3 linked regions of the Homo sapiens genome follow. The protein of the gene in region 3 purifies or fractionates together with the protein of the main gene of each other region. This does not show direct contact. Each region holds a gene or a part of one and is shown on either strand. Other genes may lie near its edges. The genes, in order: HERC3, UFD1 and TMEM62.

The links.
Region 1: the proteins of TMEM62 (region 3) and HERC3 purify together in Homo sapiens (affinity purification with mass spectrometry, with the first as the bait; one large-scale study listed by BioGRID). This does not show direct contact.
Region 2: the proteins of TMEM62 (region 3) and UFD1 purify together in Homo sapiens (affinity purification with mass spectrometry, with the first as the bait; one large-scale study listed by BioGRID). This does not show direct contact.

What each region holds. Positions count from the first base shown.
Region 1 is NC_000004.12:88,668,896-88,672,549, reverse strand, and holds part of HERC3 (probable E3 ubiquitin-protein ligase HERC3), read right to left. Parts: intron 2,691-3,654; coding exon 2,527-2,690; intron 2,412-2,526; coding exon 2,298-2,411; intron 1-2,297. UniProt on the Homo sapiens protein: E3 ubiquitin-protein ligase which accepts ubiquitin from an E2 ubiquitin-conjugating enzyme in the form of a thioester and then directly transfers the ubiquitin to targeted substrates.
Region 2 is NC_000022.11:19,472,673-19,476,326, forward strand, and holds part of UFD1 (ubiquitin recognition factor in ER-associated degradation protein 1), read right to left. Parts: intron 2,932-3,654; exon of another isoform or gene 2,931-2,931; coding exon 2,798-2,930; intron 2,429-2,797; coding exon 2,396-2,428; intron 1-2,395. UniProt on the Homo sapiens protein: Essential component of the ubiquitin-dependent proteolytic pathway which degrades ubiquitin fusion proteins.
Region 3 is NC_000015.10:43,143,509-43,147,162, forward strand, and holds part of TMEM62 (transmembrane protein 62), read left to right. Parts: intron 1-2,984; coding exon 2,985-3,126; intron 3,127-3,654.

The sequences.
Region 1 (3,654 bases), on a different chromosome or scaffold from region 3:
ATTTAAAAGTAGTTAAACAAAAATAACATATGAAATAGCTTTAGTATTTTAAATTAAACTTCAAAATATCAAGACATTTAAAATTCAATTTCTAATAGCATTGTACCTCATACAATAAAAAAAATTCCACAAAAATCACAAAAGGCCATATACTAATTTCATGTAATTTTCCATATTTCTTTAATAACTATTATAGTTATTGAAGAGATGAGCATCTGTTATTCAAGATCTGATAAGATATTTATCAAATGTTAAAAGAAAGGAAGTTTAAAATATTGTAAAAGTTACTTAAATATCTCTACTCAGAGACTACTGTCATAATAATCTAGATTTTAACATGAGCAACTTCTTTTTCAGAGTAAAAAAGAATTACAATTTGTTAGACTTATTTTATTCAGCATCAAGTCACAGAAAGGGTAGATTAGAAATCAGAAGAATTGACTTTTACTGCTACTAATGAAATTAGTGGAAAAATTGTTTAACTTCCATTTCCTCATCTAGAAACAAAGCAGTTGGACTAAATAATTCATCAGGCTTATTTTTCTGCTCATAATGTTATTATTCAGTGAATAATTATTCATAAATTGATAAAACAGAAGGGCTTATTTTTTAATAATTCCTAAATTTGAAAGTGAAAACAGAGTTCATTACTAGCCTCCATGTTAAATTTCCCAAGTCAGCCCATTTAGAACACTCTAACTCATTTATATTAAAAAGTATTTTCCTGGCCAGGCACAGTGGCTTACCCCTGTAATCCCAGCACTTTGGGAGGCCGAGGCTGGTGAATCACTTGAGCTCATGAGTTCAAGGCCAGCTTGGGAAACATCACAAAACCCCATCTCTACAAAAAATACAAAAATTAGCCAGGCATGATGGCACGCACCTGTAGTCCCAGCTACTCGGGAGGCTGAGGTGGGAGAATGGCTTGAGCCTGGGAAGCAGAGGTTGCAGTGAGCCAAGATGGTGCCACTGCACTCCAGCCTGGGTGATAGAGCCAGACCTTGTCTCAAAAAAAAAGTATTTTGTTTTCTCAGGGTAATCATAAAATCTTATTTAAAAATAAAACATTGTATGCATTTTTTAAGTCTCTAGAGAAAAAAATACAACATTGTGTCTAGCATTCATCATCTATTATTTGACAAAGAAAACAATCCTTCTTGTTCAGTTAGATCAGCCTATTTAAATGTCTTGCTTTTGGAGACAACTGCTGACTTCCAAAAACCCCACAGGAAAAATATTGCCCTAATACTGGTGATGAACCTGCTACACTGGCAAGGACTCACCTCAAATCTGCTGCACATGGCTTCACAAAATACAATAACCAAATTATCATTCTGTTTTCTGACCTAACTCAAATTTGCACATACTCCACAGATGGGAGATCCTAAAGAGCCTTGCATATATCCCAAGCTGGTGTGCTATCAAAAGGAGCAGTTCCTGCCACGCCAGAGGTGGTAGGCAGGAATCCACAGGCCCCTGAATGGCATATCTAAAATACGGTGAGACAGCACTTGGTCAGGGATGTGTGACACTTTCACACACATAATTCTCAATCAGAAGGGGCCTACGGGGTCCAGGTAGCTGACATATGATGACTGGAGTAGGCTGTCAGAAGATGATAATTAGCAAATGACCCTTCCTCAATGTCAGGGATAAATTACGCTGCAGTGGGAATTGTGGCATATACATAAGCCTCATCTAAAGAGTCACTCTTGAACTCCAGCCACTTGGTGTCATATGGGAAGACAGGTCGTGTTGCCAGATCTTCCAAGTTTTGAGGAAAGCTAAAAATTCATATTTGTATGTGTCTTGTTTTTTTAATTATGGTTTAAAAAAAAACCTAACATAACATGTACCATCTTAAGCATTTTTAAGTGTACACTTTCAGCAGTGTTAAGTATAGTCACACTGGTGTACAATTGGATCTCCAAACTTTCTTATCTTGCAAAACTGAAGCTATACTCATTAAATAGCAACTCTCCATTTTCCCCTGCCTCCAGCCCCTAGCAATCACCACTGTACTTTCTGTTTCTGTGGATTTGACTACTTTAGATACTCTGATTTTTTTAAAGGGGGCAACTGATAAAATGTGTAACATTCTGGGTGACTACTCATTTATGACTCCTTATAACATTGATGATTACTTAAAGCACTTCCAAGTTTCTAGAATGCAAAAGGCCAGCTGGATGAAGAATAGGTGACACACTGACATCAAAGTCAAAGACATATTATACAGCTCACATGTGCTTTTCTTATAAAAAGACTAAAGCTTTAAAATATGCTTTATGAATTCTTACCATCCCTGCTTGATGCAAGAACCACATGAGGTAGTCTTCCTGAATGTCCACGAGATTGGAAATCTCAGGAATGTAAAATGTATCATATTCCACATGCTTCACTTTAAGATTTACCTAATGAAGAACAAAATACAGACAACTGAAACATGGCTTCCCAGAGAACATCTCACTAGGACATTTTACCCTACCATCTAATCACCCCCTCCCCACTAGCACCTCCTATGCTCACCTTATATAACTTCTCCAAGAGTTTGAGAGCTGCTGTGATATAATTGTTAAACAGTACGGGAATTAAGAATGTCTTTCTTCCCCTCAGTAGATAAAGGACTGCACCTTTATAGAGGTTTACCAGCTTCATGAAATATTTCGGGCATACCTGAGACCACCAGTTATCTTTAGAAAGAAAGAAAAGACATATTTCAACATGTAATCTTGGGCAAGTATTTATGTCTTCTGCCTGCCAGTTAAAAATTGCTTTGTCTAGAAGATAAACATTAGTCTAAAATACATTTTCCCAAAACTGACTTTAAAAAGAATCCATTAAAACCTTTTTGGGGAGAACAACAGCTGTAAAAGAATCCCTGGAGCTTTTTTTGTAAAGCCTGGTCTGATTTTTTGCAAAGACTCAATCTGAAGGTTAACTTAAAAGTCCAATTCCAGACTACATGTGGACAAGATACACATATTTTGGGCAGGAGTGATGCCCAATGTATTAATCCAAAAAGCATTCTTATGTCCTAGCGCTTTCAGCCATCACTAAATCCTGAAGCAGAAATGCAAAGGATGACGCACCACATACCCTAGAAGCAGCACCAATATGGCAACCATTCCCTTCCCTTTAAGAGGTATCATTAGTTGAAAAACTACGATTTTTACTTCTCACCAAAAAATGCTTTCTCATAACCAGACAAGAAGATATACCACTGGCTTATACTTCGTTGGAAATAAACTCAGCCATACTGAAATACTTAAAGAATGAAATAGTATGTCTGAGATTTCCTTTAAAATACTCCAACAAAAAATAAAAAGGTGGTGAGGGCGAGGGACAGATGAAATAAAATGGGCAAAATACTGACAACTGCTGAATTTGTGTGGTGACTACCTGTAGCATACTCTCTACTTTGGGGTATTCTTTTAAATATCAATAATTAGAAGTTAAAAATAAAGTGTAAAATTGAACAATTATGTTCTCTTTGTATTTTCCAGCCTGGAAAAATAAAAATGAAAAAACTCTAAAACTTGAAAGTCAGGTAAGATTTCTTCTGATATTGCCACCTCTCTGTTTCACATCAACTAGAACACCTGAGAAAATGTGCCCCCAAAAGGCTTTTGATCTTAAAAAAAATTAAGTACTAAC
Region 2 (3,654 bases), on a different chromosome or scaffold from region 3:
GCCATGTGTAAGGCCCTTGTTCAGTCTTCCCAGAACAGTCAGGTAGGTACTATCATTATCCCCTTTTATCTATGGGGAAACTAAGGCCCACAGGTTAAGTAACAGCACACAAGTGGTGAGCACACAAGACCTCACAGCACACAAGTGGTGATGCCAGGATTCAAACCAAGGCTGCTGGCTTAAGTCCAGGGATTCAACCATCAAAGCAGAATTTAGCTTGTTAGTTCAGACAAATATTCCAATAAAAATCACACTTAGTGTTAGGAAGTAACGCAGATTCCATTTGAGATCTCCCTAAAAATTCTAATAAAGCAAATCAAGTTAAAAGCTTGGGCAGGAAGCTACAGAGAACCTCTGAGAGTAGCATGGAGGTACAGTAAGGGTGGGCACTCCCTCCTATCACCAAGGGTGACTCTCACACTGGCAGTAAAGGGGCCAGGACCTCTGTCCCGGTCCACCTCTCAGCTGCACAGCCATGGAGCTGACATACAGCTGGTCCACAGTAAACTGGACTGGGCTCAGCCAAGGGTCTGAGATTGTTGCAAGTGAAAGAGACTCCAATGTCCCTCAGTCCACTGACTCTCAAACTGCATTTTGTGACTTAGAGGCTCCCAGTGCCCTGGGGCTCCCAGTCCCTCTGTACCCCCTCACTTTCTCCAAAAAAAGCAGAGAACCTCATTTTATGAATTAGAGGACTTCCTATAAGATTTAGACAGAAAGAGTTTCTCCCATCACTTAAAAGATTTGAACAACACTGATCTGAGCTACACCTCAATGACCCAGCCCCTGAGTCTCTTCTGGACACCTGTGCCAAGGGTCACCCCTGGTGTCTGGCTCCTGGGTCAGCATGACTTGAAAGGAAGACCTTTTTAGGGAGCCTGTTCTCTCCTCTGTAATGACAGGGTCTTCGTGAGAACTGTGAACTCCATAGCTCTGTTGACCTACTGGTTGAGCTGAGGCCTCCACTGGGTATAGCCACAGCCAGTGCTGGCTCAGGGGCTACCTCCACCTTGTGGTTGGAATCGGATAGCTTAGGTTGTCACAGACACTACAGTACTTCTGATGCACAGACACTGTAGATATCCCCAATTAAAGAAGAGGACATTGAGGTTCAGAGAGGTCAAGTTGCTACTCTGGAGTCAGGCTGGGCAAAGAGCCCGAGGTGAGTCACACCACAGCCAGCACCTGTTCTCTGCTTGCTGCCACCAGAGGCCCCCAAAACCAAGCATGAACCTGTCCTCCTGGCCAACCCCAGTCTCCTGCCTCACACAGGAAGAATTCACACCAGAAACACTCTTTAAGTCTGGAAGGCAATGACTGCATCCTTGATTGGGTTGTCCATGATAGGGATTTTCTGTGCCTGTGTAGTATGGGGCTAGGGCATGGGTTTCCAGGTTGCTCTCATGGGATAAGGGGTCAGAGAAAAGGGAGGAAGAATGTGGCCACTCTTAGAACCCCTGTGGGCCTATCTCACTCCTGGTAAGAGGCAGGAGCCCAGCAAGAGGAGTGGCTTCTGGATGGAAGACAATAGCTCAGTTTTTGACATGCTGAGGATGCATTGGTGCACTGGAGATTAGAAACGGGGGTCTGGGCCGGGCATGGTGGTTCACGCCTATAATCCCATAACTTTGGGAGGCCGAGGCAGGCAGGTCACCTGAGGTCAGGAGTTCAAGACCAGCCTGCCCAACATGGCGGAACCCCATCTCTACTAAAAATACAAAAAATTAGCCGGGCGTGGTGGCGGGTGCCTGTAATCCCAGCTACTCGGGAGGCTGAGGCAGGAGGATCACTTGAACCTGGGAGGCAGAGGTTGCAGTGAGCCAAGATTGCGCCACTGCACTCCAGCCTGGGCGCTAAGAGCAAAACTCTGTCTCAAAAAATAAATAAATAAATAAATAAAAGAAAAGAAATGGGGGTCTGGAGCTCAGGAAAGATGTTTGGTGAGGGGATGAGGAACCTGCTCACAGCGCCCTCTTGTGAGCTGACCAATTCTTCCTTTAGGAAAAAAATCTAGTGAGCCCAGCCAATGGCATCAGCTGCCCTGGCACGGTACAAAGCACTTGATACTTGTACCTTCACTTAATCCTGACAGAATACTGAGAACAGTTGGGGGGTGGGTGGAGGTGGTGATCAGGAAGGGAAAGGGAACCCCCTTCACAGAGGAGGAACCTGAAGCACCCAGGGCAGTGATGAAGCTGAGGTTCAGGGGGCCCTGGCCTCGCCCTAGGTACCTGTGACCCAGGTTCTCCCAGCCCAGCGCATGCCCTCCACGGACAATTCACAACCAGATGCTGACAAAGGGCACTGGTGTCTGGATGTACTGAGGAGCCCATGCTGACTCTTGGTGTCCATATGTACATTATCTAAGTCCTTAAGTCACTCAGAAGATACTTACTGAGTTGGTCCAGGGCCGAGGGTGGCATAATTACTGTGGAAAGAACATTTAAGAAATATTAAAAAATAAAAATAAAAAGGACAGACCAAAGGCAAGATGCAGTTTCTTTATATCTAACAAAAAGCCTTAAACTGTTTTTAGGGTAGCCAGAATGTCCCAGTGATCTTTCATGAAGAATCTTACTTGATGTAATTTATTTTGGGAACTGAATGGTTATCAGCCATAAACCTAACCATAATTAGCACCCCACCCCAACAGAGCAAGTCAGGGATAAATCCCAGCACCATTTTCACAGTAACACTAGCTTCTGACTCCCACATGCAAAGTAAGTACTGTTGAAGGCTACAGCATTGCAGACTTAGGGCAGGAAAAGTTACTATTCAAATAAAAACAAGCACATACTCTTCCCTCCTTTCTCCACATCTGACCTGTCATTAGGCCCTGCTAGCATGGACACAGAGAAGCAGCGGTACTGTGTGGAGAAGCGGTTTTGGAAGACCCTGGGAATAGGGTGGTCGAACATGTTGAAAGAGAACTAGAAGGAGGAAAGAGAAACAAGTATTAAAACAAAGGTACATTTCTTCATGTCAAAAGCCAAAACATGTCAGAGTAATTAATGCTACTAAACATTGTCAGAGAACACAATGTACTGAAATCTTCAATGTAATCTTACTAAATACAAAACAGGCCATGCCAAGCCTGTCCTGAACCTTTTTCAGGGCTATGCTCCCATCTTCATCCTCAGGATCAAGGCCCAACCTCTTGCATACCTCAGAGACTTGTACTGACAGCCCCACAGACTCCTGCCTGGGCTAGTTCCTCTGCCTTGAACACTTTTCCTATTATCATTAATCTAAACAATATTTGTTAATTGAAACATCTCTTTATTGAGTGCCTACTGTCTGCCAGGCTCTGATATGAGCACAAGGGAAGCACCACTCCAGTGATGTCTGTCCACTAACAAAATAGATACCACCCCTGTCCTGGTGAAAATGACACTCAAAGCAAGAGAGATATACACTCCAAGCAACGGACACACACACATGTGTGTCTGGCAGTTCTGAAGACAAGCAGCAGGGTAAGTAGACACAGGGCTCCTGGGAATGCTATTTTAAATAGGTGGTTAGGAAGGGACTCTGCACAAAGACCTGAATGCTATGAGAGGGAGCCAGGCAAAAAAGAGGGAAAGACATTCCAGGCAGCAGGAAGAACAGGTACCCAGTGGTTGCACCCCTTCCCCTGGGTTCCAATTACCATCC
Region 3 (3,654 bases):
TAATATTCCACACGGGCTTAAAAAATTGTTTAAGTCATTGATACATAGGAAAAGTCATTTATATCAGAGCTTGTCAGCCACACTACTGAGGTCACTGGGTTTTCAGAATCCTGAGATACTGATTCTCCTGGCCTCTGTGGTGGCTGGAGAGCCCAGTTAGTCACCTGGCTGCTTTATCTTTTCATCCTGTGTCATACAAATATTAAAATAATCTTTATTTGTCACAAATGTGAAAAGGCAAGGGATCTCTGAATTAGAAACCAATTGTCTAGTTTCATTATGTTTAGATTCCTCTTTTGGTTGCAGTGCACTTTTCAGCCTCAGGGTATTCAGTAGCTTTGTTCTGCATTGTCAATCAATCATGTAGCAAATATTTATTGAGAATCCATCCCTAGTTGGATAGTGTGAGAGATACATGAGTTAATGTTAAAAATTTGGCTTTTGCCTTCAAGGAACTGATAGTGTAGTTAAGGGACATCAGAATTATTTAGGAAACAATTAGAAAATAACATGAAGAAATGGCCGAGGAAATGCTAGATTATTTGGTACACATGATAATCACTATGAGAAATTAGAAAAGCATGGGGGTGGACATAGAGAAGACTTTATAAAAGAAGCAAAAAGTGTGTCCAATCTTAAAAGATGAGTAGCATTTGAAGAAGTAAGACATGCCAAGGAGGATATTTTAGGCAAAAAGATAGGTATGAAGAGATCTTTAAAAGCTACAGACTGGGAAACCAAAAACTGAACTTTGCAGGGGCAGTAAGAAAACTGGTGTCACCAGAATTAACATTCATACTGAGGACTAGTATGACACTGGATAGGCAGCCTAGGGCTAATTTATGGAGGTCTTAAGTAACAAGCATAGAAGTTGAGATGTGATGGGTAATAGTTCATAATTCAGCATAGGTTCTTAAGGAGGCAAGTAACATAATTAAAATAGTGTTTTATAAATGGCAATCCCACAATAAAAAAGGAAAAAGATGGGATAAAAAGGAAAAAAGAGATATTGGAGTTATGTGGACTAAATAGGAGGGTCCTGCAATAGTCTAGTCATGATAATGAAAAGTCATACCCATCTGAACTAAGTTCTTGGATATGGAGATGGTGACATCAATTTGAGGATGATAGGTCAAAAAGCACTGGTTAACTGAGTTTGTATGATTAGAGTCACCATACATTGGAAGAGGAGGTTGTTCTCTTTTGTTAATGTGAGAAAGGAAGAGGACAGAGATGAAAATCTTTCACTTCCTGTTAACTGTTTGTATCTTTCATGGTGACTGTGGGGAGTTAGGAGACATGTTCAAAAGTAATTAACAGGACTTGGGGCTGAGTGGTTATTGGGAAAGTAAAGTGAATAGTCACTTTAAAGTTTCTTACCTTTGTATTTTTGTTTTTAGCCACCTAAACTTTATCTGAATTTAATAAATGGCATTTTACTAAAAATATAAATATTACAGAAATACCAATCTGAAGAAAAAAAATTAAAGTTAAATCTTGATCTTAAAAATGTCCCAGAGAGGAGGCAGAGCTTGCAGTGAGCCAAGATCGCGTCACTGCACTCCAGCCTGGGCGACAGAGTGAGACTCCGTCTCAAAAAAAAAAAAAAAAGATTCTGAGGAATAACTGAACATAAAATAAGCAAGAAAAAATATAAGTAAAAATTTTAATTTAGAATAAAACCCTGAAATAGAATTTTTTTTTTTTTTTTTTTGAGACAGAGTCTCATTCTGTCATCTAGGCTGGAGTGCAGTGGCACGATCTCCACTCACTGCAAGCTCCGCCTCCCGGGTTCAAGCCATTGTCCTGCCTCAGCCTCTGGAGTAGCTGGGACTACAGGCGCCCGCCAGCACGCCCGGCTAATTTTTTTGTATTTTTAGTAGAGATGGGGTTTCACCATGTTAGCCAGGATGGTCTCGATCTCCTGACCTCGTGATCCGCCTACCTCGGCCTTCCAAAGTGCTGGGATTACAGGCGGGAGCCACCGCGCCTGGCCCTGAAATGGAAATTTAAAAAATACCAAGAAGAAAGGCAGTAGAACTAATTGACATTGTTTAAATTGGGTTTGACTAATTTCTGAGTATTAGTTGTAATGTCTATATCATATATTTACTCGGGTTACATTATATTTGATGGTTGTTGTGGCCCACTAGCATATTAAATTTCAGGAGTTTATTTGTATTTTTAAATATATGCTGTTAGGTAAAAATCATGTAAGACACTTAGATAAATGATAATACCAACTTTTCTTATAATGTTCTGACATTTGAATAATATAGGTATGCCCTCCAATAAAATCTATACTTTCCTTCTTATTTATTCAACACATACTTAATGAGTGCCTGCCCTGTACTGTGTTACTCATCCTTTCTTCCTGGTCTTCACTCTGCAGTTTTATGGACACCTGAACACTGTTGACGCTTAAGGTGGTAAACTTTCATTAGTGGATATAGACCCTGTGTATGTTATCAATATATCTTTAGGAACTGAAAAAGATTTAACAACCCAGACCTAGACTAATATTTTTTCTCCTTGCTTGAAGACTTCATCTTTGCAAGTCTTTCTTGTGAATTAAGCCTCTGTAGTCCTGTTTCAAGAAGTAGACAGCTTTTTTATCTCACTACACCAAGAATTCTAGGTACTTAGTATGCCCTCACTAAATCTGCAAATGATTGATAAATACTGTTCCACTGGATTTTGATTTCTTTTTGAACATTTAATGGACTCCCTAAAAGAGCCGTCTTACTTCTGAACTTGGTGAACTTGTATTTGGTTATTGAATGAGTTTGCATGAGTCTTTGGGGACAATGGGAGAAAAACTTTGAAATTTCATCAGTTTATCCATTGTGGATCTAGTTTAGTATATTTCTGTCAGATCAGCAAATCTCGTTTTCAAAGGAAGGTAAAATCTAGCGTATTAGGGAAGGAATTTTAAAGCATTGTCTTTTTATTACACTAACACCCTCCTGTCTTCTATTTTTTAGGAAATATTCTGCTGTACGTAGAGATGGCTCTTTCCATTATGTCCACAGTACTCCCTTTGGCAACTATTCGTTCATCTGTGTAGATGCCACTGTAAATCCAGGGCCTAAGAGACCCTATAATTTCTTTGGAATTTTAGATAAGGTGCAGTAAAAATCTTACTTCCCTTTGTAGCTTACTTATTTTTTCATGGATACGTGTGGATCACTTAAAGTTATCAAAAGTAAACTAGTTGTTATCTAGGAATGCTTTGGAGAAATTTAACTTGGTTACAGGTATGGCTAGAAGTTACTGGCTATTTCAGCACTATTTTTGCTATCCTTTTTCTTGTCCCAAAATCTGAGAAAGAAGTACCTCACACTTTATGGAGTAAACATTTATTAAATAGGTACTGAGTACAGGATGCACTTTGCAAGTTACAGGACATACAGCTTTGTGTGGTATATTCCTAAGTTCCCACAATTGCCAGTTCTAACTAGTGTTTATTTTTTGAGACGGAGTTTTGCTCTGTCGGCCAGGCTGGAGTGCAGTGGTGTGATTTCAGCTCACTGCAACCTCCACATCCCAGGCTCAAGCAATTCTTGTGCCTCAGCCTCCCAAATAGCTAAGATTACAGGCACGTGCCACCATGCCCAGCTAATTTTTGCATTTTTAGTAGAAAGGGGGTTTCGC